Linked DNA regions of Homo sapiens. The protein of the gene in region 5 purifies or fractionates together with the protein of the main gene of each other region. This does not show direct contact. Each region holds a gene or a part of one and is shown on either strand. Other genes may lie near its edges.

Region 1 (4,169 bases), on a different chromosome or scaffold from region 5:
CCGGATGTGCGGTGTGGCCCTGGGCTGGCTATTTAACCTCTCTGAGCCCATGAAACAGGGCTGGCAAAACAGTCTCACATGAGTTAAATGAGGAATTGTAAGGCTGTGAAAGTTCACATGCTACTTTTCATTCTAAAAACAGGTACAAACACTTTTTGATTGGCTTTTAGAATCCATTTCTAGGTTTTACATGTGTATAAGACATGTGGAGATGTTCCTGTCACCTCCGAACTAGGCCACAGCTGGGAGGGCCTGGGGCCAACAGTGCCCAGGTCCAGGTTCACCCTCTGAGGGGAGCAGCACAGGCTTTCTACTCCTGCCCCTCTACCAATCACACAACAACCCTGAGGACAGATCACCAGGCACCTCATTTTACAAGGAGCAACGAAGGCTGAGAGGGTGAGGAACTTTCCTAAGGTCACACAGAGGGGTAGGCCCTGCCCAATTCATAGCAATAGCCCCACCAGGCTGTGCATGCCTTGACCCAGGGGATGCCAGGGGAGGTCGGATGTGGGCTGGGTGGTGACGCATTCTGATGGGCGGCTCCCTGGGGACATTCTTGGACGACTCCATCCACAACTCTTCTTGGTCCTGAGCCCAGTGTCAGCCTGTCCTGATGACAGAGCCCCAGCCCCAGCTTCACAGATGGTCTCCTCTGTCCCACATCCCCACCCTGTCCTCTAACTACAAAGGCAGCATCCAGATCCCACCGGCTAGAGTCCTGTCCCTGGCACTGGGCGCTCAGTGATGGTGAATGGCTGCCTCCTGCTGCTCGCCTCCACCACCAGCTCTGGGTTGCGGGAAGCAGAGGCTTGGCCATGCCCTCTTCTGTCCTAGTGTAGGAAGCAAATGGCTGATGGCCCCACAAAACCTGCTGCGGCTCAGTCCCCTGTTTTCCTCAGCCCAGACTCCTCAGAAAGGTCTCTGCACCTTGAAAGCCTGACCTGACAACAGAAATGTCATCTCTTTGAGCCCTGGATGGACAGTCAGGCTTCCTGGGCCTGTCCTGGCTCAGCAGCGTAGAGGCTGCGCTGTCCTAGGCATGGCGCTGCCTCTCTGAGCCTCACTGTCCTCATCTGGGAGATGGGGATGAAGACCGTGGCTGTTATCAGGGTTGTCGGGAGGATGAAGAATTAATGATGCTGTCTGTGGAGGGAGGCTGATGGCCGGGGCCAGGGACCCTCTCCCTCCTCTCAGCCCCACAGCTCCCCGACTTTGGGCTGATCTGTGGTCCTTGGTTCCCCAGACCCCAGACTGTCACTAGCCACAGACAGGAGGCAAAGCAGATGGGTGACCTGACCAATAGTAACTACATGACCATAGACCAAAGAGTTTAGTACTGGAAAAAAAATCTCTGAGATCTTAGGGAATAAATAGCTCCAGGGTTTGATACAAGATATTTGCAGACAGGAAAAGCCGGGCTTTGCCTGGGAGAACAAAGTGGGTCCAGCTGCCCACTGGACCATTCCACAGGACTGGACACTCACCCCATACCAGATCACATCCCAGGTGTTGGGCCCAGGGTGACAAGGCAACAGTCCCTGCCCCAGCGAGCTGAGTTTGCTCCTTCCCCAGCCGCCCCCCTGACAGCCGCACCCCACCCAGGCTCCGCACAGAGAAGAGCCTGCTGTGGACTCAGGGCACGCGACTCAGCTCTGGTCACTCCGATGTGACCACAGGTTTCCACGCTGAACTTTGTCCCTCTCCTCAGTACTGCCCTTATCACAGTGACAGCATCCCGGCCTCTGTTTACTCACCTGTCTCCCCAGGACCAGGCTGTCTTCCCGGGGCAGCCCAGGTGGGCAAAGACATCACCTGATTCTTACTCCTGGGTGTGTTTGGGGCAGGGTGAAGGCAGCGCCTGGGAGTCCACAGTCCCCCACACTCTGCTCCTGACCACCCCGCAGCCCAGGGGGCCCCCATGACCCTTAGACCTTCCCTAACCACGGCGGTCCCACTCCCCTGTGGTTCGCGTCCACCGTCTGTGACTCCCCGTTCGGCCAGGGCCCGGCACAGCCCGCGGATGCGCGCCCCTCCCCTGCAGCCAGCTTACTCCGAGGGTCCCCGCGCGGGCGGCCGCACTCACCCATGTTAACGAAGCTCATGACCAGGTCGGCGCGGCCCAGGCGCCGCTCCGCGGGCGCGCCGTCCTCGTCGTCGTCGCCGGCCATGGCGTGGTACAGGTCCAGCATGAAGAGCGGCGCGGACGCGGGCAGCCGGGAGGCGGCGGGTGGCGCGCGGGGCCGGGGCCGCCCAGGCAGCCCGAGCACCGCCAGGATCTCGCGCTGCACGTCCCGGCGCTCGCGCGCGCCCAGACGTCGCTGGGGACAGCCGGGCGGGGGTCGCAGGCCGGGGCCGCCCCCGCCCAGCGCGCATAGCGCCAGGCCCAGGAGCCAGAGCGGGCCGGGGAGCGCGGTCATGGCAGGCCGGGGGCGCTCAGCTGGGGCGCTCAGCGGGCGCGCATCGGCTCCGCGGCCGACCCAGGGCCTGGGGACGCCCCGACGGCAAGGAGGCTGGGCTCGGCGGGCGGCGGGCGGCGGGGCGGGGCGGGACGGGCGGCGACCGCGGCCTCAGCGCGGTCCCTGGAGCGCCCGCCGCGCGACACCTGTCCTGGCTCCTGGACGAGAGGACGCGGACGCCACCGCCTCGAGGCCGGGGCTACTCTGCGGACTGGGACTCTCGGCCAATCCGTCTGTCGCCGCCGTACCCGCCAGTCCGGCTGTGGCCGCGGTCCGAGCAGCGCAGGGGCGATGGGCGAGCTCCTGCAGCCACCCGCTTGGTGCGGTTCCCGCGAGTCCCTGCCCTGCCCTGCCCAGCGGTCCGCGTCGCCCGCCCCCACCCCGGGACTGACCAATGGGGGGGCGGGGGCGGGGCCTGGGAGCGGGGGCCACGCCTGCGAGGGGGCCCGGGGCTGCGGCCGGTGTCGCGGGTGGGGAGACCCCGAGGTGCTACCTGGGCGTGGCGGGTGGGCAGGCGGCCCGGGCGAGGGGCTCGCAGCCTGGGCGTCAGCGTGGTCATGGCCGTCGTGGCTTCCGCCGCGGGCCTCGGCGCAGAGATCCTAGGGCCGCGGCGCCCTTCCGGTCCCGCCAGTGGTGCCACCCGGCCGCCCCGCCGTCGCGTGCGCGGGTCGCCATGGCATGCTGCAGGCGCCTCCTTCCCGGCACCTGCTCAGCTGCTCCTCCCCGCGCCCCCACCTGGCTCCCGCGTGAGCCTGGGCAGCGCCCCAGGCAGGCCGCCCCCGCCAGCCCTCGCTGCGCGGCGTGCGCCCCCTGCGCCCCCAGTACTGATCCAGCTTCGCGGGGGAGACGCGCACCCGCCTCCTGCCTTTAGCCGGGCCAGGAGCTCTGGGGCCCTTCTGGAGCACCCGGGAGCCACCTGTGCACTTCTCAGTCGCCACGGCCCCGGTGCAGGCCTGGCAGGAGAAGGATCCCCGCGGAAATGCCTCTACTAACTCAGCCCCTTTCTGCACTCTCTGCTCTTCTCTGGGCGCGCTCTCGCCTTACTTATTCCTGTGTGGTTCAGGCGCTGCGGAAGGAGAAGGCACCTAGACTGTACTGGGAAGGCTCCTGGAGTTGACCTGGAGCGCCAGGAAAGGTCAGTGGAGGAAAGTGCTCCAAGCAGAGGGAAGAGCTTGTGCCAAGGCCCTGAGACCCCGGCGGGGGAGCCTAATAATGGCAGGTAACAGTCAGCACTTGCCACGCGCGAGGCATGTTCTCAGTGTGTGTCTTGTGTCATTTCTGTGATGCTTGCACATCGTCAGGGGGTACCTACCACTGGAACCTCCTCTTTTAACAAATGAGGAAACTGAGGCACACAGCGGTTAAGGGACTTACGCTAGGTCACACAGCAGTAGAGCTGGGCTGGGGCAGGGGGCAGCTCCTCAAGTGGAACCTGGAGAGCCCACGGGGCAAATGGCGGAGGCTGGAGGGGCTGGCAAGGGAGGGACTGCAAAGGGCCTCACAGGGGCTAGACGAGGGCCCTGGGCACCAGTGATTATGGTGCCCCCCCATGTGGATTGAAGATTAAACCTCGAAGCAAGTGTATAATGCCCCCAAAAATCACATTTAGAAGTCATCACTTCAATAAAAATTTCTATATTAAATAAATTATTAATGTAAATGGTCATTTGCTGGCTCCTTAAGCACATGCCTAGTCTGTCTTTTACCGAA
Region 2 (3,500 bases), on a different chromosome or scaffold from region 5:
AGGTCAGGTCAGGGTGGCCAGGGCTTGGATCAAATGGGAAAGTGTGCATATTGGGGCGCTGGAGGAGACGGAAGGTACCGGCCTGATTAGGCTCAGGGGCTGTATGGGAGGGGCCAGCTTCTGGAGGACACTTATGTCAAGCTTGCGGCATAGTCTGGGGTGCAGGCCATGGGGGAGGGTGTATGTGTGTGGGGGGCAAGACCACAGCTTGGTTGGGTATTTCTAAATCTGGGCCTGCCCTGGGAGGAGCAGGCATTTCACCAGTGCTCAGTTGGCTGGCAGAAGGCACAGGGGCTCAGAGTTGGAATGGCGCCATTTCCCTCTCCCCTCCACACAGGGGACCTGAGGGCGGTCCTGGAAAAGGTACCCAGAGAGGGGTCAGCGCTGAAGTCACAGAGGTCAGGAAGGCAGGGACCATGCAGTATGGAGAGGAGCTTCCAAGGATCTTGGGGCAGAGATGCTGGCACCAGGGAGGGCCTGAAGCTGATATCTGAGAGGTGTCAGTGGAGGGGGGCAGGGTGTCCTTGTGCCCCACACCCATGACAGAAGGCCCCATCTCTGTGTCCTCACTAAGGGCAGGGACAAGGGGAAGTACCTGGGAATCTCCCTCCACAGGGCCTAGCAGAGTCTGTGTGCCCTGCCTGGAGCAGGGCCCTTTCCTCTGGCTGAATCTTCTCGCTGAATAATCACACAGGCTCCATTTCCTCCAGGAAGCCTTCCCAGACCAACTGTAGCCTGGTTTGGGGGTCCCTCCCTGAACGCCTGTAGCTATCATGGTATTCTATCACACTTAACTCTGTGCAGATCTACCCTGCTGGGGGACAGGAACTGAGTGTCTACATCTCTGATTCCTGCGCCAGTACATCTCTGTAGGTGTTCAGTAAATGTCTCCTGAACAAAGGAAAGGCTAATGATGAGACTTGGCTAATGATGAGACTCAACTAATGATGCCCCTGCCCTCCTCCACTGCTCTGTGCTGTCTCCCTGTCCCCTTCCCTCCGCCCAGCAGCGGGCAGTGCCCAGCTCCCAGCTGACCTTGCTCCAGCCAGAACCGGACATCCTCCTGGCGGGTGTAGATGGCATCCACGGCCTCGGCACACACGTTGTGGAGATGGGGGCTCAGCAGGGCCCCCTGGCTGAAGTTGACAGCGACATCCATGTGCAGATGCTCCAGACCCCGAACCTCCTCCGCCTGCCGCACTGCCCGGGGATTTTTCTGTGTGTGGGAGAGAAGTCACTCCTACCTGGCTTCAGAATGCTCCCTGTCCATCTTCCCCTGACCCTCCAGAGTCAGGCGAGCCCAAGCTGACTGCCTTTAGAACGCTGGGGCCATCTGCAGGGTGGCAGCCCCACCCCTCTCCAACTGGCAGTGAAGCTGATGCCTAGAGTACAGTCGAGCCTTTTCAGCCTCTATCCAGAATGGATGCTTCCCAAACTATGTGCTGGCCACTGGGCTGACCTCTGGGGCTTGATGGAGAATGCTGAGGTGTGGATGGGAGGTGGAGGTGGGTGGGCCAGGCAAGCTGTGCCAGGGCATATGACCTCTGGAATCACGTACTTTCCAACATCCAGGGAACCAAGTCCCTTTGGGAAAGCAGGCAAAGCGCAGGGGCGAGGAGGCCCCCAGGGCAGGCTCTGCTGGGCAGGCCAGGGAACTCAGATGAGGCTGGGGCAAGGCCCTGGGTCTAAGAAGACAGCAGGAGCAGGCCGGCAGCTTTGAGGGTCTTGAACACTTCACATATGTTTGCTCACTGAATTCCCCCATAACCCAGTTTCAGTGAGAAAATTGTGGCTTTGAAGGTAACTTGTCCAATGTCACCCAACTAATGAGTGACGGAGGAGATGTGATGTCTGATCTGACCTCAGAGCCCAAGCCCCTAGCCTGTCACACACGGGGAGGTGCTGGAACCAGATGGGAGAAATCTGAGAGTTGGGGTTCAGTTAGTGATCTGCAGCTCTAGGGTCAGGTTTGGCCTGGGGCAAAATCAGGGGCTCAGGACTCTAGGGTGAATGGGGTACCAGGGATGAGGGCAGGTCAAGGGCAGTGGGTCCAGGAACAGCGTGAAGATGAGGAGCTGGGTGGGAGGCTAAGGTTGGGGAATCAGAGCTTAGAGCTAGGCTGGCTGCAGGGGTCGGGTCTGCAGGTCAGGATCTGGGCCGGGTCTGCGGGATGGGATCTGGGCCGGGTCTGCTGCGGGTCAGGACCTGGGCCAGGCAGGCCTGGTGGGGCACTTACCTGCCGGAGCTTGGCCATGGCCTCACTGGGGATGATCTCATTGTGCTGCAGCTGGGTGACAAAGCAGAGGGCCTGGAACTGACTCTGCCCCTTCTCCAGCTCCCCCAGGATCAGGGCCCGGAAGACCTTCACATCCTGAAGAAGGGCAGGAGGATGGGAACGGCTGGAGGGTGTGGGACCTTCCCACTGGCCCACCGGGTGCTCAGCTTGGCCCCTGAACAGGATGCCTGGACACTGCCGGGCAACAGACACCTCCCTCCTGCTGGTCTAGGAATTTTTATCTTTTCCGTTTAAACCCGTGACTTGAAAGAAAGAACACACCCCAGATGTTCCAAAGATCCTGGAAAACTGACAAAGTGAACCACTAGAGTTTTTCCCAGCTGATGATTCCTCTCGGCAGAACCCCTTAACGTCACCCTGATCAGGGTGGGTCAGGGCCTCTACAGGCACCTGATCAGGGCATCATGGAGGAGGGCTGGACTTTTCCAGTACCGATTCCAGAGTTCCTCTTTTTTTTTTTTCTTTGTAGTTGTAATGGCTAGAAATCTTAGACATTCTTATTCAGTAGATCTGGGGAGAGGTCTCAAGATGCCCTTGGTGCTTCTGATTGGCCAGGCTCCTGGCCACCGACCACTGAGTGAGTGGAGTGGTGGGGCCGGGACGGGGTGAGGGCAGAGTGGGAGGCTGGCTGCAGCTGTTGCAGCCTTCCGGCCTGAGGGAGCTAGGATGCCTCGCCTCTTCCTTTCCCTCCCCACTTCCCCTTTCCCCCATGGGGTCGCTAATGGCATTGCCGCAGTCCAAGGGCTCCTTCCTGTTACTGACTCACTGTGTGAATGGGGGGTCTGCAGCAGGATGGAGGGAGTAGAGCTGTAGGGTGGGCTGGGGCCCCCTTCCCTATCCGGCTGCTGGAGCCCTGTGCTCTGCTCACCTGTACCGCTCACCACATGAGAAGTGGCCCCTTGCCTTCTTACCCATCTCTGTGACTTGATTAACTCTGCTCCCAGTGAGAAGTTAGTGGGTCCCAGTCAGAAGTGGTCTACATCTGTCAAGGCCCCTCCTGTGGTGGAGGCACCCTGACCTCAGTGACCATTCTCTGCTGGGAACCCCTATGGCTCTGCACTGAGACTTAGAATGACAGCTCTGTGGATCATCTATTAATGCCCGGGCCCCAGCTCCCCCCACCACACAGTCACTGAGTACTTGCTGTACACCCGCGAGAACAGAAGTGTCTCAGCAACAGGCTCTGAGTGGCCCCCTTGGAGTC
Region 3 (3,500 bases), on a different chromosome or scaffold from region 5:
AGCAGTTCAGGGAGGGGCGGTCCTGGGAGGTGCAGGAAAGGGAGCAGCTCGGGGGCACAGCAGGATCGGCCTAGTGAGCTGGAGCCATTAGCCTCGGAGTGCTGTCCCCAGCATCTCGGGACCATGCGTGGAGAGGCGGAAACAGTGTCTGTCCCACAACAGGGGTTTCCCAACCTGTAGATCATAACACCCTGGTGGGTGGTGATATCAGTTAGCAAGTCAAGATGGTCATTTACAAAAAAAACCCGAAAACACCCCAAGAATGAAAAAACAAAACAAACCCAAAGCCAGAATGCGGCCTACGGGGGGACAGTGTGTTCTCGGGGTTGCAATGTGACATGTGTTTCTTATCCATGAGCTATGAAAAGAGTGTTGGGGTATCCATCTAGCTTTTCCAAGAAGGGGTCTGTCCAAGGGCATAAGAAATCTTGGCAGTGACTCAAGCCTGTGATCCCAGCACTTTGGGAGGCCGAGGCAGGAGGAGTACTTGAGGCCAGGAGTTTGAGACAAGCCTCGGCAACAAAGTAAGACCTCATTGCTACAAAAAAAATTTTAAAATTAGCCAGGCAAGGTGATGTGCACCTGTAGTCCCAGCTACTTGGGAGGCTGAGGTGGGAGGATTGCTTGAGCCCAGGAATGGGAGGCTATGGTGAGCTAAGATTGAGCCACTGTACTTCCAGCCTGGGTGACAGAGCAAAAGCCTGTCTAAAAAAAAAAAAAATTCTGGGCAGGTGGGCTGGTGCCAGGGAAAGAACAGGGTCAGAGGCAGTCTGGGGGCACTCACCCTCACAGCGGCGCTTGTCTGGGGCCAGCTCGTACCCGGGGTCACAGCTGCACTTGTAGCTGCCCAGGGTGTTGAGGCACCGCTGCTCACAGCCCCCGCGGTTGGGCCGAGAGCACTCGTCCACCTCTGTGGTGGGAAGGAAAGGGTGTCACAGACTCCAGGCATTCAAGGGAAGAAGCTGGCTGTGAGCCTCACTTGTCCACTCAGCCCCAAGACCCACCCAGCTCCCCGATGGCTGGAACCCCACAGAGCCTTCCTTCAGAGCACATGGACTGGGCTGGTGTCTCTCACGTGCTGTTCCCTGACTAAGGACCCCTCTTTCATTTCTCCTTCAATCCTCATGTGAAGCCTGTGGCGGAGGGACTGTTACTGTGCCCATTTTACAGATGAGAAACTGAGGTTCAGGGAGAATATCCTGCCCAAGGTCACACAGGTAAAAAAAACCTCCAACTGCCTTTTTTCCTCCCTGAATCATACAGCAGGTCCTGCCTCTAATCCACATTGGGGGACCTCTTCTCCCCAGCTAGCCCAGAGCTCCTTAAGGGCACAGCCCTGGGGTCTCACTGGTATCAATATGCCTCCTGGAGTCTCCGTGTTGAATGAGTGAGTGAAGAAGGGATGAAGGTCACGAGGCACCTTGGGGCAGGGGAGAGTAACAGAGGAGGCACCTTTGAAAAAGTTGACGGCAAAGCCCGCTTTGTTAATGGACCCGTCAGAGACGAACTTGAGCCAGAGGCGGCTGGACGTGCTCTTGATGTCATCAGGCTTCTCATAGCCACAGTAGCGCCCGATGAGGGTGCTGCTCTCACTGTGCCCGTCGCGCACCTCCAGATAGTCGTAGGCACAGCTGTCGTGGCGCTCAATCTAGGGGTCGAGGCTTCATCAGTGGAAGGGGCTCTGGCTGCCAGAGACCCACCCCTGGGAGCCCAAAGAGAGGCAGCTGTCCCAGGGAGCAACTGCTGGATTCAAAGGTCAGATCACAGGGCCACTGACCTACCTCAAAGGACTGGAATGTGAGGCCCACGTGGAAGCCCTCAGACACCTGGATCCGCCAGATGCAGACTTTGCTGGGCCGGTAATCGTCTGGGTAGTTGGGCGATTGAATGTGGCCATAGTCCTTTTTCACATCACCCCCGCAGATGGCTGTGGGGACACAGGATGGGGTGGGAAGGGGTGGTGAGTCAGCATGCTTTGCCCTGCTAGGGAGCTCTTTTCCCCACTCCTCCAGTCCCTCCCATGTCCCCCAGCTTTTCAGTTCCCCACCAAACCCCCAGTCCCAGGCAATCCCATCATTCTCTCTGCTTCTTCCCTTGGGAACCCACAATCTTGCCCCTCAGGTGCCAGGAGGGAGTTGTTTTACCATGCCCAGAGACCTCCTATCTGACTCCTCCCGCCCGCCGCCTTCCTCAGTACCTTCGTAGACTGCAAAGAAGCCCTTTCCAACCCAATTGCTGCTGCTGCGGAATTCAACCCAGAGGCGGCTGTCAGTGGAGACGATAGGCTCAGGGAGTTTGGACCCGCAGAAGCGGCCTGCACAGACAGTGTGGATGGAAGAGTGGTGAACCCTGAGGACACCCCCTATAGAGGCCCCACCTCTCCAGGAGGCTTGGGTGCTTGGGCCCTGATCTGTGGCCACCCTACTTCACACATTCCCAAGACTGTATACCCTCTGGTTGGCTTCTGTCTGGTCCAAGGTCCAACTTGGCTTTGGAGAGCCAGAGACCACTTGAGGGATAGGATATGAGTCTATTTCTAGGAGGAAAGGTAGATCTTTATTTTTCATTTTATCTTATTTTATTTTTTTGAGATGGAGTCTCGCTCTGTCACCCAGGCTGGAGTGCAGTGGCACGCTCTTGGCTCACTGCAACCTCTGCCTCCTGGGTTCAAGCAATTCTCCTGCCTCAGCCTCCCAAGTAGCCGGGGCTACAGGCATCTGCCACCACACCCAGCTAATTTTCGTATTTTTAGTAGAGATGAGGTTTTGCCATGTTGGCCAGGCTGGTGTCGAACTCCTGACCTCAGGTGATCCACCCACCTTGGCCTCCCAGAGTTCTGGGATTTCAGGTGTGAGCCACCGTGCCTGGCCAAGGTAGATCTTTATAATGTCCAACTATATATGTGTTCTATTTACCTTTCTAAAGAGCATATTACCATCATTATTTACCTTTTCTTATTTGGTCTCTATGCAAAGAAGAGACCAAATAAGAAATAAAATCAGAAATATAATCAGAAATAAACATGGCTTTCTTTACACATTACAAACTGCCCTCACAGACATGTTTTTATTTGGTCAAATGCAAGGGATGCCCCAGGACCCTAAATAAATCACAGAATCTGGGGACTAGCTCACAAAATGTCCACTTTGAAATAAAAATGAATAAGAATCAACATAAGTGAATGAGGTCGGCCATCTGTGGAATTCTTTGTAGTCAAGAATCAACTAGGAATGAGTTGTGTGTTCCTAATAAGGCCGGTGTTTCCCAACATTCAGCAAGGGACAGAGGGTGCTGGCCCAGGAATGTAAGTTATGAAAAAGAAACTCCCATCTTGGAAAAACACTAACACGTCTACGAGAGGAAGTGTTGTAAGGACAGCTGCTTTGAGTGACCAAAAAGAAATATTTAAATATCGGAAACTGGGGGGAAAATAGAGGTTAGCAATATCCGTCTGGCTGTTTTAGGCATAGGCTGAGGAGAAGAGGTTCTGTTGCCAAAGA
Region 4 (3,500 bases), on a different chromosome or scaffold from region 5:
CAGGACACCATTCAGCATCTCAGCTGCCCGTCCCAGGGGTGCGTACTCCAGCAGAAAAGGAAAATAACAAATTAATACCTTAGTTAACCAGGCCGAGCTGCTACCAGGCTGGCGACAGAACGATGGCAGCTGACCTTTCACTGGTGCGGAGCAAAGCCGAGAACAGGAAGCCTGTATGCTCCCACAGAAAAGTGTAAAAATAAATTTGCAAATAACTTCGAAAGATGTGGCTGAGCAGCCGCAGAAATGAAAAGATGCTAGTGAGCTTTAAAATTTAACCATGTCTGGCCAGCTCCACAGTCTCATTTTTAAAATGTCTACAAGTCAACGTAATGACTTTGCACTTCAATTCTGCATTAATTTGAACTGGAAACCCTCCCTTCCTCTTTTTTTTTTTTTTTTTAAGTAGGAAAGTATGTAGGGAAGGAAAAAGCACAAATTCTACCTGAGTACTAAAACAGTTACCTTTTAAAAGACAAATCATGCTTATGTTCACTTAAGTAAGCGGAACAGACAGAAACCACTGCTCGACTTAAAGTGTCCAGAAAAAGTGCTTCTGTAGCAACAGAATGCCTAGAAGAACTCCTGGATTTCTAGAATGTCTCAGTATAAAACCAAGTCTTTCTCTTACTCTGTTGTACACGCTGGAACTGGATGGGTTCATTGGATTCCAAGACATGTGACCACAGAATTTCAGAGTTAAAACAAGACATCATGAGAAGGAACCTCGTTCTTAAATAATATTTTTAGATCTCTAAAGCCAGAGAGGGGTTTAACTGCTATTTCTGTGCAAAGATTAGAAAGCCAGTGTCCGAGGAAGGCTGCCAAGGGACTGGGGTTTACCTCCAGGCTCAAATTGTTCGCCGATGGGTGAGGCTGGGACCCTGGGATCCGGAACAATCTGGCCTCAATCTAAGCCATCTTTCTGAGAAAGGGAGAAGAAACTCATTCCCAGAGGGCTGAGGCACTCACTGTAAGCACTCCAACTTGCCAAGAGAACTTACGATTTTTCGCTCATAAAAGGCCCCACTGCTGTAGGTGGTGGCCAGGGTGGAGGCACACTCTTCCAGGTACCAGGGCTTGTAGCCATTCTCGGTGGCGCTGCTGACGGAGATGGTGTAGATGCTGTTGGTGTAGCCATCGCACGAGCAGTAGTCCCCCTCTCTCCCGCCATTCCCAGATGCCCAGACGAAAATGGAGCCCAGGCCCTGCCGGCCCTGGAGGGACAAGAGGAACAAGGCTTAGCCCCGCAGCAGAACCTCGTAGGGTGGGTCTCCCCCCGAACCTAGAGTCCCATCTCCCAAATGTTCCTTCAAAGGGATAAGAAGGTTGCATTCAGACCATCTGGATGCTGCTGAGAGCATGGTTTTGGGGGCTCTGTTTGGATTTTAATGGTGTGCCTTTGCCTGTAGCAGCAGCCTTAAAATTGCAGAATCACAGGATCATACGAGGGGAAGGGGCCAGAAAGACTCCTCTGTTCTTCACAGGAAAATCAAGGGTCCCAACACAAGCTGCTCTATTCCAGAGCCATGCCTGTCATTTCCATCGCAATGGCCTAGGATCAAAGAGAGCTAGCAGTGCTGCAAATGACACTGAGATTACAGATGATGGAAGAATTTACAACTTTAATTTTTCTGGGTTGAAAGAGCTGGTCTGGTGGGGAAAAGAATGATTTTTCTGGAAAACATACTTGAAGAGGTACCCTTCTTGCAGAGAGAGCTAAATTTGCAAAGAGGGATAGGACCATGAACTCTGCGTGAAGACAGAATAGGTGGAAAGGGTTACGTCCAGGAAGCTGGTAGCAGCTTGTGGGTGTCCTGTCAGAGCTCCCTGTGGTCTCTGCAGTGGGTAAGTATCAGGGTGGTCTGATTTATATCACTAGCCAAGGCCAGGGCCTCATTTGTGTGTAGGTTTTCTTTCCGTTTTTTTGTTTTTTGTTTTTTTTTTTTTGAGACAGGGGTCTTGCTACGTTACCCAGGCTGGTCTGGAACTCCCGGGCTCAGGTGATCCTCCTGCCTTAGCCTTCAGAGTAGCTGTGCCTATAGAAGTGTGCCGCCATGCCCAGCTGTGCACCGGTGTTCATTGTTAAGAACGTACACATGAAAGCAAGTCTTTGAAAGACAGCAGCCAGTCAGGGCAGATTCCTGCAGCTCCGCTCTATCCCATACCCACAGGATGGATGATTTCTGACCACACTGAGAATCATTCCAGCCACAAGTACCAGCTAAAGATTAGCGAGTGGAAGACTGAACTGACGGATATAGTCCAGATGGCTGGATGGGCTGGTGGTGCACAGCTGGCCCGAGAGAAGGGCCAGCATCCACCTCCACGGGAAACTGGAGCCACTGGCTGGCCATCACATCCTTACTAAGGACCGTCCTTCCCAAACAAACAGAGGAAATTTATACTTATGCTCAACAATCGGCCAATTTAAAGATAACTTACACACCAATTCTGCAATCCCCGTAGAGCCAAATTGAAGCCTGCTGCTGACCAAACATGTCACACTCACTTTTGGAGCACAATGAGTGGACCCGCCTGCTCTGTACGCTCACACCACGGGGGTTTGTAAACCAAGGAGACTCCAGCTCCAACTTGAGGCTCCCAAGAAAGCCCACAGGAAAGTTCTTGGAGCTCACGCAGCCCCGCTGCTTAAGGCTGCCGCGTCCACTCTGCTTTCTGCATCTGCAAGGTGAACCTGTCGGGGTGGCCAAGAGCTCAACAGAAAGGTCCCTCCCAGAAAAGCTAACCTTCTGAGAGAAAGGCACAAAGAGCTCAGGAAGGTGGTGTGTGTGTGCACGTGATTACCTGCAGGAAGAGATTCAGCTGAAGCCGGTTTAAAGCAACTACAATGCAAATCAAAAGGTATTTAACCCATCAGAGCCTGTCCTTATTCCAGGTGAGAATTAGTCCTAGACACTGCCACTCCTAACTCCCCACCCCACTTGAAATGACTTATAAAATGTTGTCCTTTTGCAAGGTGGAGCATGCAACCTTACTGCTCCAGGAGCAGAGAATGGCCAAAAACAGTGCTCCCCAAACTTGAATGTGCACACCCTGGAGTCACCTGGGAACCTGTTACAATGCAGACTTGTGCCCCAAAGTCCAGGGTGGGCCTGAGAGTGTGCATCCCTAATGAGCTCCCAGGGGACGCCAGTGCTGCTGGCTCTGGACCCCACTTTGAATACCAAGAGCCTGAAATGCTCAAGGTTTGCATTTACAGCATGTAGCATGCATTTACTATGAGACCAACCCATCCTCATAGGCATCAAGGTACCAACAACCTTTCCCCTCCTTAAAACGGTTTCTGGGAAGGAGACATGGAAATGAGGCGAGGAAACAGCCAGGTCTGAGGAGTGTAGAGATGTTTTAACTGTCTCTGACGACTTTATTTTCACTTCCCAGATCTTCCAGTGGCTTCATGGAAGCCATGGGACAGAAGCTGTAGGGGACATTTCAACCCTAGCCATGAACTTGCACTTCTTTTCAGTAAACTCACA
Region 5 (3,975 bases):
TCTTAACCTATAGCTTTAATTTAATGCAACTGCTGCTGCAATCCATTATATCAACTGGTATATATCTGACCAGTACTTCACTCAAGTCTTTCCCTTTTTTTTTTGAGTGCAGTGGTGTGATCTCAGCTCACTGCAACCTCTGCCTCCTGGGTTCAAGCTATTCTCCTGTCTCGGCCTCCCGAGTAGCTGGGACTACAGGCACCTCCCAACACACCCAGCAAATTTTTATATTTTTAGTAGAGACGGGGTTTCACCATGTTGACCAGTCTGGTCTTAAACTCCTGACCTCAGGTGATCTGCCCGTCTTGGCTTCCCAAAGTGCTGAGACTAAAGGCTAGGGCCATGGCTCCCAGCCATATTTCATTTTCTGAATAATTTGATTCACTATATTTTGGGCTAAATATATTGCAAAATATATTGTACTTATTTATTTTATTTTTAACTTTAAAAACTCAACTATTTTAAATAATAATGTTAAAACATAATTCTCATTTAATTACATAGAGGTTGCATGGTGAAAATAATTTAGGAAAAATACCACTAACATTTACTGAGCTTTAAATACGTGCACTTACTATGCGAGGCACTTTACCCATATTATTGCATCTACAGTCTTCACAGCAGCCCCATAATTTAGGTACAATTATTACCTGTATTGTACAAATGAGGAAACTAAAGAGAAGAGAAGAGACTTAATCAATGCCATACAGTAAGTGGCAGAGCCAGTAAATTAACCCAGTTCTAACAGCCAAGTTCACTTTTGCAAATGCTAGGTTGCACATTGGGAGAAATAAAGGTCTTACCCCACCATCAATGTGGTTTAGCACTGAAACTCATTGTTCTTAATTTCATAGAGAGTAGTTTATGTATCCTTCAAATGGGGAAGAAATCTATTTAATAATATTTGACTCCAGTTGTAGCTATGTGACTGTAGGCATCTGATGGAAGGTGGAAAATTCAGTCAACCATCTAAGCACCTAGTTGACTTAATACTAGATACTTACAAACATAAAGATGTTTGAGTAACTAAGGACTTTTTTACTTTGCACTTGGTTGTGTGGCATCCTGGCATCATAGAGACATATTCCAAACTACACAGTTTAAAATTATAGATAGACTTTCCATAGAACCTCAGTGGCCAGATTTTCTAATTTAAAATTGCAGTAGCCAAACTGATAAATGTGTGCTTGTAGGGAATAATAAGACAGAATATTTAAAACCTGAAAAATCACTGGGCATGGTGGCTCATACCTGTAATCCTAGCACTTTGGGAGGCTGAGGCAGGTGGATCACTTGAGGTCAGGAGCTCCAGACCAGCCTGCCCAACATGCATTGCATCCATAGCTTGGCTGACTTTCTTAAAAAACAGGTTGATGGCAAGAAAAGAGAACTGAGTAGATGTTATAAATAGTTAAGTACAAATCTATCACTACTTCTTGCGAAAATGCTCAGGCTGCCACACTGATGATGAATAGATAGCTCGTTCTTCCCAAACTGAGTGCAGTAGAGTGTTGCAGTGCTCAGTTGGGTAGGACAGATGTTGGATAATTGGGGTTATCCAACATCTCTACTAAAAATACAAAAATTAGCTGTGCGTGGTGGAAGGTGCCTGTAATCCCAGCTACTAGGGACGCTGAGGCAGGAGAATAAATTGAACCCGGGAGGAAGAAGAATCGATTGAACCCGGGAGGCAGAGGATGCAGTGAGGCGGGATCACGCCATTGCACTCCAGCCTGGGTGACGAGAGCAAAACTCTTGTCTCAAAAAAATAAAAAAATAAAACCTGAAAAATCAGAAGCTTCTGATGAGCCACTCATAGGCTTTTCCTCTTGATAATATGTGGGTTCCTATGCAATATAAGGTAGGAAGCGACTTTACAATAAAAAAGAAATTGCCTTTTTTTTTTTTTTTTTTTTTTTGCCTGTATAAAGTCTTTGCAGGGGTGGCTAAATATCATCTTTGCAGAATCCAACTTATTTTCTGTGTTCAATTGACAACCAAGTAGGAACCATTCCCTTTCAACAAAATAGAAGCAATGACGAAAAGTTCTGCTCCTATATTTTGTAGCATTTTCTCAATCGGTATTCTCAAGGCATACATCCCAATGAAGCAAGTATAGAGATTTTATTTAGAGGTAATATTATTTGAGGGTAACCATGGAGATATGTATAATTCCGATTATCCAACAACTGTCCTACCCAACTGAGCACTGCAGCACTCTACTGCACTCAGTTTGGAAAGAACGAGCTATCTATTCATTATCAGTATGGCAGCCAGAGCATTTTTGCAAGAAGTAGTGATAGATTTGTACTTAACTATTTATAACATCTACTCAGTTCTCTTTTCCTACCATCAACATGTTTTTAAGAAAGTCAGCCAAGCTATTGATGCGATGCCTATGATTAGGCAGGTGAATACTATGTTCTAATTTGGTTTATGCTCTACGATGTCTTCGGTAAGCAAATGTAACAGCTTGGTTTCATCTACGATTACCCACTTCGTATAAACGTTACACCGTACTAAGTTCAGCAAGGGAGAATGTTGCCTCCAAGACCCCCTGAGAAATAAAACCAGAAATAACCTAAGCAGGTGCCTTACCATGGATGTTCCAGATGTCCAGATATGGGATTAAGAAGAAGACCCAAAATAATTTCCCAGTTCCAAGCATGGCAGGCAATGTCTTCATTTCCTGCACATATCAGTGATGGAAAAACTGCTCAAGTAGAAGGCTTTGCTTCGTCTTCTGAGTGCTGCAGAGTTGGGTCAGTTTACCTACCCCAGTGGCATCTGTGAAATAACTAAAAAAAAAAAAAAAAGAAGAGAGAGGTGGTAAGAGAGGAGAGTAGGAAGAGCCTGGATGATTTTGTGAAAAAAAGTGAACAGAAAGACGATGTGGTACTCTGTTCTGTGGTTTTTGCTTCTTGTCAGGTTGGCTGTTCACTTTCAAACACTGTGATCTGCAAAGCAGCTCAGTCCTTAACTTCTCCTTCCGCTCTACCACGTTTTTGCCCCAGGTTGAGGTTTTTCCTGCACTCAATGTTCAGTGAAATGAGCAATTAAACTTTAAAGAAATCTGTATTGTTGCAGTCTTTAAGTTGAGATTTTAATCAAATTAAGGTCAGGAAATTTATGGTAAAACTATCAATGGTAAGTATACATTTTCCCCTTTGTGATAGCTTGTGATTATGAAACTTCTTTTATGTAAAAGATTTTAGGTTTCTTTTTTTTCCTGTACATGTCACGGTAAGATGAGGATGCTTATTGTCATTAAACCAGTGAAGATTTATCTCAGGTTATGGAGAAAATGAGTGACAGGAAGCACTTCCTCAACAGAAGAAGGAAGAGCAGCCGTCTTTAATCTGTGGATACATATCAATGGAACAAGATCATCATTAATATTGGCTACATGTTCTCTCTAGATAATAAAGTTCTAATCTAAAGGAGATCTTGAATATCAATTAAAGGAAATTTCCATTTTAAACATTCTTCATGCAGTTGTTGTCTCGATGAAGTAGAATAGAAACAGTAAAGGAAGAAATGGAAAAGTTCAAGATCAGATAGCACAGGCCACCATAGGACTGTTTTCTCCACATCCACTTGTAATAATTAGCTTAGCTTATAGTCATAGGAGCTAATCAAATTCATCTGCCATTTGAGACTCCAAATGAGAGATCTAGATTTGTGGCATTAGTGATCATTGACAGAAGTCGATTATATAAGTTTTTTCCTCAGAGACTGATGATTTTATTCCAAGGCCAAACTTCAATAGTTTTAAGTTCAAGGAAAGTTTTAAGAGCAAGGAAAGTGTATAGATTGCTGGACATTTTGACCTGACATGGGAAACTGATGGGCAATACTTAATTCAGAGCTCCCAGTTGAGTTGCCAAGGGTAAATTAAAATTAAAAAACAGTTATCATGTATTTATTGAGTCAAATAGACAATGTGCTATGGTTGGAGATGAATGATGAATGAGT
Region 6 (3,500 bases), on a different chromosome or scaffold from region 5:
GTAATTTTTCTGCTTCTTGGTGCTAACAATTGTATTAACATTTGGCTTTATATTGTACATGACTTTTCTAACTACTGCCTAAAATATGGTTGATAATTTCTACAGAAAAAGTTGCCCTAGAATGAGTGTATTAAAATTCTCATTCATAAAAAGTATGTCTTAATTGCAATTCTAACAAAGCAGTAATTCTTGATCTCAAATAGTTTATAGAAAAGAAAAATACACACACACACACACACACACAACAAATCCAAGTGTTTATTTTTAAAATTCCAAATAAGGGTACAGAACAAATTTCACTTTTTATTTTCAATATATCATTTTATATTAAATCATTTATTATCTTTGCTACAACCAAATAGATGCTCTACTAATTCTTACTGTACCAAAAATTTAAAAAGTGGAATGCAGACTCCCCCCTTATCTGCAGTTTCACTTTCCAGTTTGTTATCTATGGTCAACTGTGGTCTGAAAATATTAACTGGAAAATTCCAGAAATAATTCATAAGATTTAAATGACATGCTGTTCTAAGTAGTGTGAAGAAATCTTGAGCCATTCTGCTCTGTCCTGCCTAGGGCGTGAATTATCCCTTTGTCCTGCACATGCTGTCTATGTTACCTGCCCCTTAGTCACTTAGGAGCTGTCTGGATTATTAGATTGACTGTGGTGGTGAAGTTCTGCATTAAAGTTGATTATAAGTCGGCTGCAGTGGCTTACGTCTGTAATCCCAGCACTTTGGGAGGCCGAGGCAGGTGGATCACCTGAAGTCAGGAGTTTGAGACCAGCCCGACCAACATGGAGAAACTCCATCTCTACTTAAAATACAAAATTAGCTGGGCGTGGTGGCGCATGCCTGTAATCCCAGCTACTTGGGAGGCTGAGGCAGGAGAATCACTTGAACCCGGGAGGCGGAGGTTGCGGTGAGCCAAGACTGCACCATTGCGCTCCAGCCTGGGCAAAAAGAGCGAAACTCCGTCTCAAAAAAAAAGAAAAAAAAAGTTGATTATACAAGGCAAACCTTCTGTAAAAGGAGTGATGGTAAATATTTTAGGCTCTGAGGGCCATAGGGTTTCCTACCTTTGCAGGCCACAGACAGAACTGAATGAATGGGTGGGTCTGTGTTCCACTGAAACTTTCTTTACAAAAACAGGCTGGGAGGTCCGATTTGGCCCATAGGAAGATAAGCCTGAATGATATCTACAAGCTGTTGTGATGTGAGGCAGGTGTAAAAATACCATTCGAAGGTTCTACTTCCTATTTATCTATATGTAGATTTATCATATTATATAAAGGCATTTACGTACTTATATTGCTTAAAGAATACATTTTCAAGTGACTATGGTAATGAATCATTCAAAGTGTGGTAGGCACTGAACAAAATAAATAACTTGTTTTCTTAGAAGAAATTCATACTTGGATAAAAATATCAAGAAAAAATGTCCCTTTTCTTCTATTACAAATGGGGAACATAAGAGGTTCTAGAAACAGGAGCCCAAGAAACTGAGAGTTTTTTTTTTTTTTTTTTTTTTTTTTGAGACAGAGTCTCACTCTGTTACCCAGGCTGGAGTGCAGTGGCACGATCTCAGCTTACTGCAACCTCTGCCCCCCATGTTCAAGTGATTTTCCCACCTCAGCCTCCCAAGTAGCTGGGACTACAGGGGCCCGCGCCCACACACAACTAATTTTTGTATTTTTAGGAGAGATGGAGTTTCACCATCTTGGCCCAGCTGGTTTTTAGATCCTGACCTCAAGCAATCCACCCGCCTTGGCCTCCCAAAGTGCTGGGATTACAGGCGTCGGCCTACCTCTTCTTTCTAAAATAATTTCACTGTATATATCTTACCACAAGACCACCCACATGGCAGAAACTAGATTTTTCTTCCTCCTCATAAATGTTAATTTTTCATTGGTGTTTTAAAAGGCAAAGAATTCTATTTGTTATCCTCAAAAATTTTAAAGCTGGAAGTCATTTGGTATTAAAAAAGAGGTATATTGGCCGGGCGCAGTGGGTCACGCCTGTAATCCCAACACTTTGGGAGGCCGAGGTGCGTGGATCAGCAGGTCAGGAGATTGAGACCATCCTGGCTAACACAGTGAAACCCCGTCTCTACTAAAAATACAAAAAAATTAGCCAGGTGTGGTGGCATGCGCCTGTAGTCCCAGCTACTCAGGAGGCTGAGGCAGGAGAATGGCGTCAATCTGGCAGGTGGAGCTTGCAGTGAGCCGAAGATCGTGTCACTGCACTCCAGCCTGGGCGACTGAGTCTTGACAGAGTGAGACTCCATCTCAAAAAAACAAAAACAAAACAAAAAAAAATTGGTTGAAGAAGTTTTCTACTTGTAATAAATTCATATACATCTAGTTAGTGTATATCAACTGAGAGCCCCAACCCTTTCTCAGTAAGAGATATATTCATCCTGAAAGACAAAGGCATAACTCAGTGTATCTAGGGTACATTCAGGGAGTAGAAACCAGTGCAATGCAAGTACAATTCTCAGGAAAAGATTTAGAATGGATTTTAAATTGGAAACATCAATTATTCTTTGATTTGAAAGTAGATTGGTATTGGGGAGATGTTGGTCACAGGATACAAAATTTCAGTTACATAGGAGGAGTAAGTTCAAGAGATCTATTGTACAACATCTATTATTTTAGTTAATAACAAATGTATTCTTGAAAATTGCTAAGAGAGTAGACTTTAAGTGTTCTTACCACACAAAATAAGTGGGTAATACATGTTAATTAGCTCCATTTAGCCATTCTACAATGTATACACATTTCAAAACAACATGTTGTACATAATATATATATATATATATATATATATATATGCAATTATTTGCCAATTAAAAAGATAAATAGGCTGGGTGTGGTGGTTCACACCTGTAATCCCAGCACATTGGGAGGTGAATTGCCTGAACCCAGGAGTTCAAGACCGGCCTGGGCAACATGGCAAAATCCTGACTCTACAAAATATACAAAAATTAGCCGGGCACGATGGTGTGTGCCTATAATCCCAGCTACTTGGGAGGAAAGGTGGGAGGATTGCTTGGGCCTTGGAGCTCGAGGCTACAGTGAGACAGTGCCACTGCACACTAGCCTGGGTGACAAAGCAAGACCCTGTCTCAAAAATAAATGAATAAATAAAAAAGGCTGATACAGACTAAAATATTTATTTTTGCATTTCTATTTAGTTTGTATAGTATCAAACAACAAATAATTTCAACTAACAACAAATAATTTACAGTACAGATAATGTGCTGCTTCCTATACGCATGGCTTAATTTTTTAAAGGTTCAGACAATGAGTTATACCTGTTTCTTCCACTTCCTTTAAATGGCAAGGAAGCTGAAAGTAGAACAGAACATTTGTTTTTATTTACCAACAACTACACTTACCTTATAAACAGAACTGCCACCAACTATCCAGACCATGTCTACTTTATTTGCTAATTCTGGTTGTTCAGTAAGTTTTAAGGCATCATCTAGACTTCTGGAAA
Region 7 (3,500 bases), on a different chromosome or scaffold from region 5:
GGCATGAGGTCCTGGGAGGCACCTGTGGGCCGTGTGACCTCCATGGTCTGTGTGGCCTCGGACTCGGGTGTACAGACTTCTATCCTGAATGGGAATCCACATTTTTGTGTTCTATGTTCTTGGCCTAGATTACTTTTCATCTCTCTCTGAAATCTCTCCCAGGTAGACTGGTCATTTACAGAGTGAGTGTAGGACCGTCTGCCTGGAGTCCTGACTGCCCCGAGTCCCAGCTGGCCCATGAGCTCAGACTGCCCCTTGGGCCTCAGCACCCGCAGGGCTGGACGCTGATGTAAACTCAGCTGTGCTGTGGTTGGTTGCACGCTGGATAAAACTTTAACCACGGCGGCCTTTATCTTGGTCACCAACAGTTATGGTGGGTGGGAGACCTGGGGGAGGGGGTACCAGCCTTGCTCTGGGGGCCCTGGAGAAAAACTCACAATGAGGCGAAACCTGGAGAAATCCAAGCTCCAAGTTCAGTCTTTCTAACCGGAGGTAGAAGGTGCCGGGCCAGATGTTAGGAACTTGCAAACATTCTTTCTGCTGATTAAAGTGGTGATTGGTCTTGAAGACGTTGGGCTGCGGGTCACATGCTCTGTGGCCTGAGCTTTGTTCTGCTTCTGGGTGAGATTCTTAGAGAGGCTGTGGTGTAGTCCGTCCCTGCCACGCACACCTGGACGTCCACACTGGCACAGGCCCGATTTCTACATTTCCAGGGGAAATTCAATGGTTCTAGTTGTCAGCTGGGGCGACCCTTACGGAGCCTGTGCCCTCACCTTTGGGAACAGAGACTTTGTCTCTCCTGCCTCTGGGGGTGGGGTCCGAGGCCTACAGGCCCTGTGTAGGCTGGGGCGGTGGGTGGGTTTGGGAGAGGCATGGGATGGTAGGGGCTGAGCTGCCTTGGGGTCCTGTGGGGTTGCAGGGAGGCAGCGGCCTCTTGTGAGGAGTGACTTGAGCCCCAAGGGACCAGAGCAGGCATTCGGCGGTGGGTCCTCGCTCACCCTCCGTGTGCCTCCTGGGCCTGTGGGGTCCTGCGCAGGTCTGTGGCCCCAGTACACGTCAGGCTGGCTTGGGGTCCCAGAACTTTGCTGTGTCCTGTGAGGCAGGTGCTTGGGTTTCCTTGTTTACACTTGGTGACCCTGCGGCATCTGCTTAAACCGAGCCTGAGGTGATTTCCAGTGCCCTGTGGGTGGTGGGTTGCTTATCCGAGGAAGCAGACATGCAGGGATCCTCGGAACTGACAGGGGCCCAGACTCTGAGGTTCACCGGGGGCCCCCGGAGCTGGGACCCACGCCTGGCATCTCACGGGAACGGGCACAGATGCAGGCCCCTCCCTGGGCTGAGCACCTCCAGGGCCCTCACGAGAGGCCTCTCCTATCCTGATGGGGTGGAGGGGCAGGAGGGATCCGAGGAGGCTGATACCTCTCCTCTCCCCAGGGTATTCGCCTTTCATCAGGGGACGGGGGCCCCTAAGCCTTTAATGCTGCAGGAATGGGTACATAATGTGGAATGTCGGTGCCGGCCGTCTGGCAGCAGTGACGCCATCCCCTGGGCCAGGCCGGCTCCCCAGCACTCTCCGGCCAGCGCCGCGGTTTCCCTTGCCTCCCGTTCCTGCACTTGCTGTAGCTGCGAGAGCCGACGGAGGCTGAGCCGGGCAGCGCCAGCCCCGCCGAGCCTGAGGTGAGCCTGAGCCTTTGGCCTGGCAGCACGACCCACGGGAGGTGGACGAGCTCGTCTGTGTGTCAGAAGTTCCAGTTTGTGCTGACTCAGGAGGACAGAGGCTCCGTGGGCTGGAACCCCGGACAGGAGAGGGTGTGTGAGCCCCGTCCCCTGCCCAGCCAGGAGGAAATCCCCCGCTCCGGTGGGTTTCGTTGGTGTGATCGTGGTGCGTTCATGCTGCATAATCGGCTTCCTTGAGTAAACTGAGACACGCCGATGACCAAGAGTTGGCCGGAACACGGGGGCAGGCTGCTCCTCCAGGGGTACACACTGGGGGCCAGGCGGGAGGGGACCCGGCCCCAGGACCTTGGGATTTGGCTGACTACGGGCAGGACCTCTCAGCCCTGCACCAGCCGCCTCTGCAGGCGACACGGACGCCTTCCTTGGATGCTGAGGAAACCCCGCAGGATGGGGGTGGCAGAGAGTGGTCAGGTGCAGCTTCCGGCCGTGCCCAGACCTGTGCCCAGCAGACCTGGCTGAGGCCGTGTGGGGCTGCTGTTTGCAGGCCAGGGAATCCGGGAAACGGGCACCGTTCAGTGGCTTGGGGAATGTGGGTGGGGGCTGTCTGGTTCTGGGGTACACAGACCCGAGACAGTCCAGGCAGGTCCCAGGATTCCAGTCTGTTCTTCAGCTTCTCCCAGGGCTGTGTGTCAGATGCTCCTGGCTTGGCCACATCTGTGCTTGGGGTTTGGGGTGCAGGCTCTGTGTAAGGCCCCCCAATGCAGGCCCCAGTGAGCAGGTGCCCAGGGCCGGGCAGCAGCATCGTGGACACAGGCAGTGGGAGGGGAGGGGATGCTGCCTTGATGCTGATCATGAGCACGTGGTGCCGTCCCTGGCTCTCCAGGACGCCGGAGTCCTGCAGCGTCTCAGGGGCCTCAACGCCTCCCCCCTTTAAAATCCTGCCCCTGGCTGAGCCCGTAGGTGAATGACCAGCTCGGCGGGCGCAGAGCCCCTGCCGATGAGCCCCCTCCAGGAGCCTCAGAGTTTGGAGAAGTCCTTGATGGGTGGGAGGGATGGGTGGAAAAGTGTGGAAGATAATTCTCATTATTTCCTGGAAGTAGAGGAGAGGGGCTGATTTTTCCAAGGCGTCCCATCTCTCGTCCATCTTTGGCTTCCTGCTTGGTGCCTTCTCTCCGGCCACTGTAATTTTCATTTTAACCATCTCTGGGCTTGTGGAGAGGAAGGGTGTGGCCCCCGCCAGCTTCCTCACCAGGAAGAGGGAGGGAGAAAGGGAGGCAGGGGGAAGGGCAGGGGCTATGGGGCCAACACCCCCGGGGCACCCCAGCAATGGACTGCAGCCTGGAGTGCGGCCGCAGCGCGACGGTGATGATGGTGGCCTTGAGGGGAGCCTTGGGAGCTCAGCCTTGGGTCCTCGAGCCCACTGGAGCCCACCCTCCACCCCTACCCACTGCTCCCTGTTCTTGGCTCCTCTGAAAGCACCTTATCCCCGTCACCGGCTCCTCTAAAAGCAGCGTGTCCCCCCGCTACCCCGTCACCACCTGTGTGGGAGACCCAGTAATCGTGGCCACAGAGGTTTCCCGTCGGAACTGTGTGAGTCCCTCTGGCTGTCCTTACCTGGGCAGTCCTGCCGGACCGGTCGGTGTCTGTCATTCTCAGCCTCTCCTCGGAACCAGCCGGTCCTGCCTCTCTACTTAACACCTGCCGTGCAATCTAAGTCCCCGCAGCAGCGTCCCCAACCCCACCCTGCCGGTCCCTCCCACCCTGTTCATGCTAGCTCCTGAGAGACCTGCCTGAGATGTCCACACCCCAGCCCTCCCCCTCCG

What was found.
Region 1: the proteins of BTLA (region 5) and BMP8B purify together in Homo sapiens (affinity purification with mass spectrometry; one large-scale study listed by BioGRID and IntAct). This does not show direct contact.
Region 2: the proteins of BTLA (region 5) and OAF purify together in Homo sapiens (affinity purification with mass spectrometry; one large-scale study listed by BioGRID and IntAct). This does not show direct contact.
Region 3: the proteins of BTLA (region 5) and BMP1 purify together in Homo sapiens (affinity purification with mass spectrometry; one large-scale study listed by BioGRID and IntAct). This does not show direct contact.
Region 4: the proteins of BTLA (region 5) and PCSK6 purify together in Homo sapiens (affinity purification with mass spectrometry; one large-scale study listed by BioGRID and IntAct). This does not show direct contact.
Region 6: the proteins of BTLA (region 5) and DHFR purify together in Homo sapiens (affinity purification with mass spectrometry; one large-scale study listed by BioGRID and IntAct). This does not show direct contact.
Region 7: the proteins of BTLA (region 5) and METRNL purify together in Homo sapiens (affinity purification with mass spectrometry; one large-scale study listed by BioGRID and IntAct). This does not show direct contact.

The regions. Positions count from the first base shown.
Region 1 is NC_000001.11:39,786,066-39,790,234, forward strand, and holds the start of BMP8B (bone morphogenetic protein 8B preproprotein), read right to left. Parts: upstream 2,801-4,169; 5' UTR 2,421-2,800; coding exon 2,087-2,420; intron 1-2,086.
Region 2 is NC_000011.10:120,224,532-120,228,031, reverse strand, and holds part of OAF (out at first protein homolog precursor), read right to left. Parts: intron 2,372-3,500; coding exon 2,237-2,371; intron 1,217-2,236; coding exon 1,036-1,216; intron 1-1,035.
Region 3 is NC_000008.11:22,192,872-22,196,371, reverse strand, and holds part of BMP1 (bone morphogenetic protein 1 isoform 3 precursor), read right to left. Parts: intron 2,315-3,500; coding exon 2,198-2,314; intron 1,928-2,197; coding exon 1,782-1,927; intron 1,649-1,781; coding exon 1,453-1,648; intron 911-1,452; coding exon 785-910; intron 1-784. UniProt on the Homo sapiens protein: Metalloprotease that plays key roles in regulating the formation of the extracellular matrix (ECM) via processing of various precursor proteins into mature functional enzymes or structural proteins.
Region 4 is NC_000015.10:101,392,208-101,395,707, forward strand, and holds part of PCSK6 (proprotein convertase subtilisin/kexin type 6 isoform PACE4-AI preproprotein), read right to left. Parts: intron 1,218-3,500; coding exon 1,005-1,217; intron 1-1,004. UniProt on the Homo sapiens protein: Serine endoprotease that processes various proproteins by cleavage at paired basic amino acids, recognizing the RXXX[KR]R consensus motif.
Region 5 is NC_000003.12:112,496,673-112,500,647, forward strand, and holds the start of BTLA (B- and T-lymphocyte attenuator isoform 1 precursor), read right to left. Parts: upstream 2,801-3,975; 5' UTR 2,687-2,800; coding exon 2,599-2,686; intron 1-2,598. UniProt on the Homo sapiens protein: Inhibitory receptor on lymphocytes that negatively regulates antigen receptor signaling via PTPN6/SHP-1 and PTPN11/SHP-2. May interact in cis (on the same cell) or in trans (on other cells) with TNFRSF14.
Region 6 is NC_000005.10:80,634,484-80,637,983, forward strand, and holds part of DHFR (dihydrofolate reductase), read right to left. Parts: coding exon 3,400-3,500; intron 1-3,399.
Region 7 is NC_000017.11:83,086,109-83,089,608, forward strand, and holds part of METRNL (meteorin-like protein isoform 1 precursor), read left to right. Parts: intron 1-3,500. UniProt on the Homo sapiens protein: Hormone induced following exercise or cold exposure that promotes energy expenditure. Induced either in the skeletal muscle after exercise or in adipose tissue following cold exposure and is present in the circulation.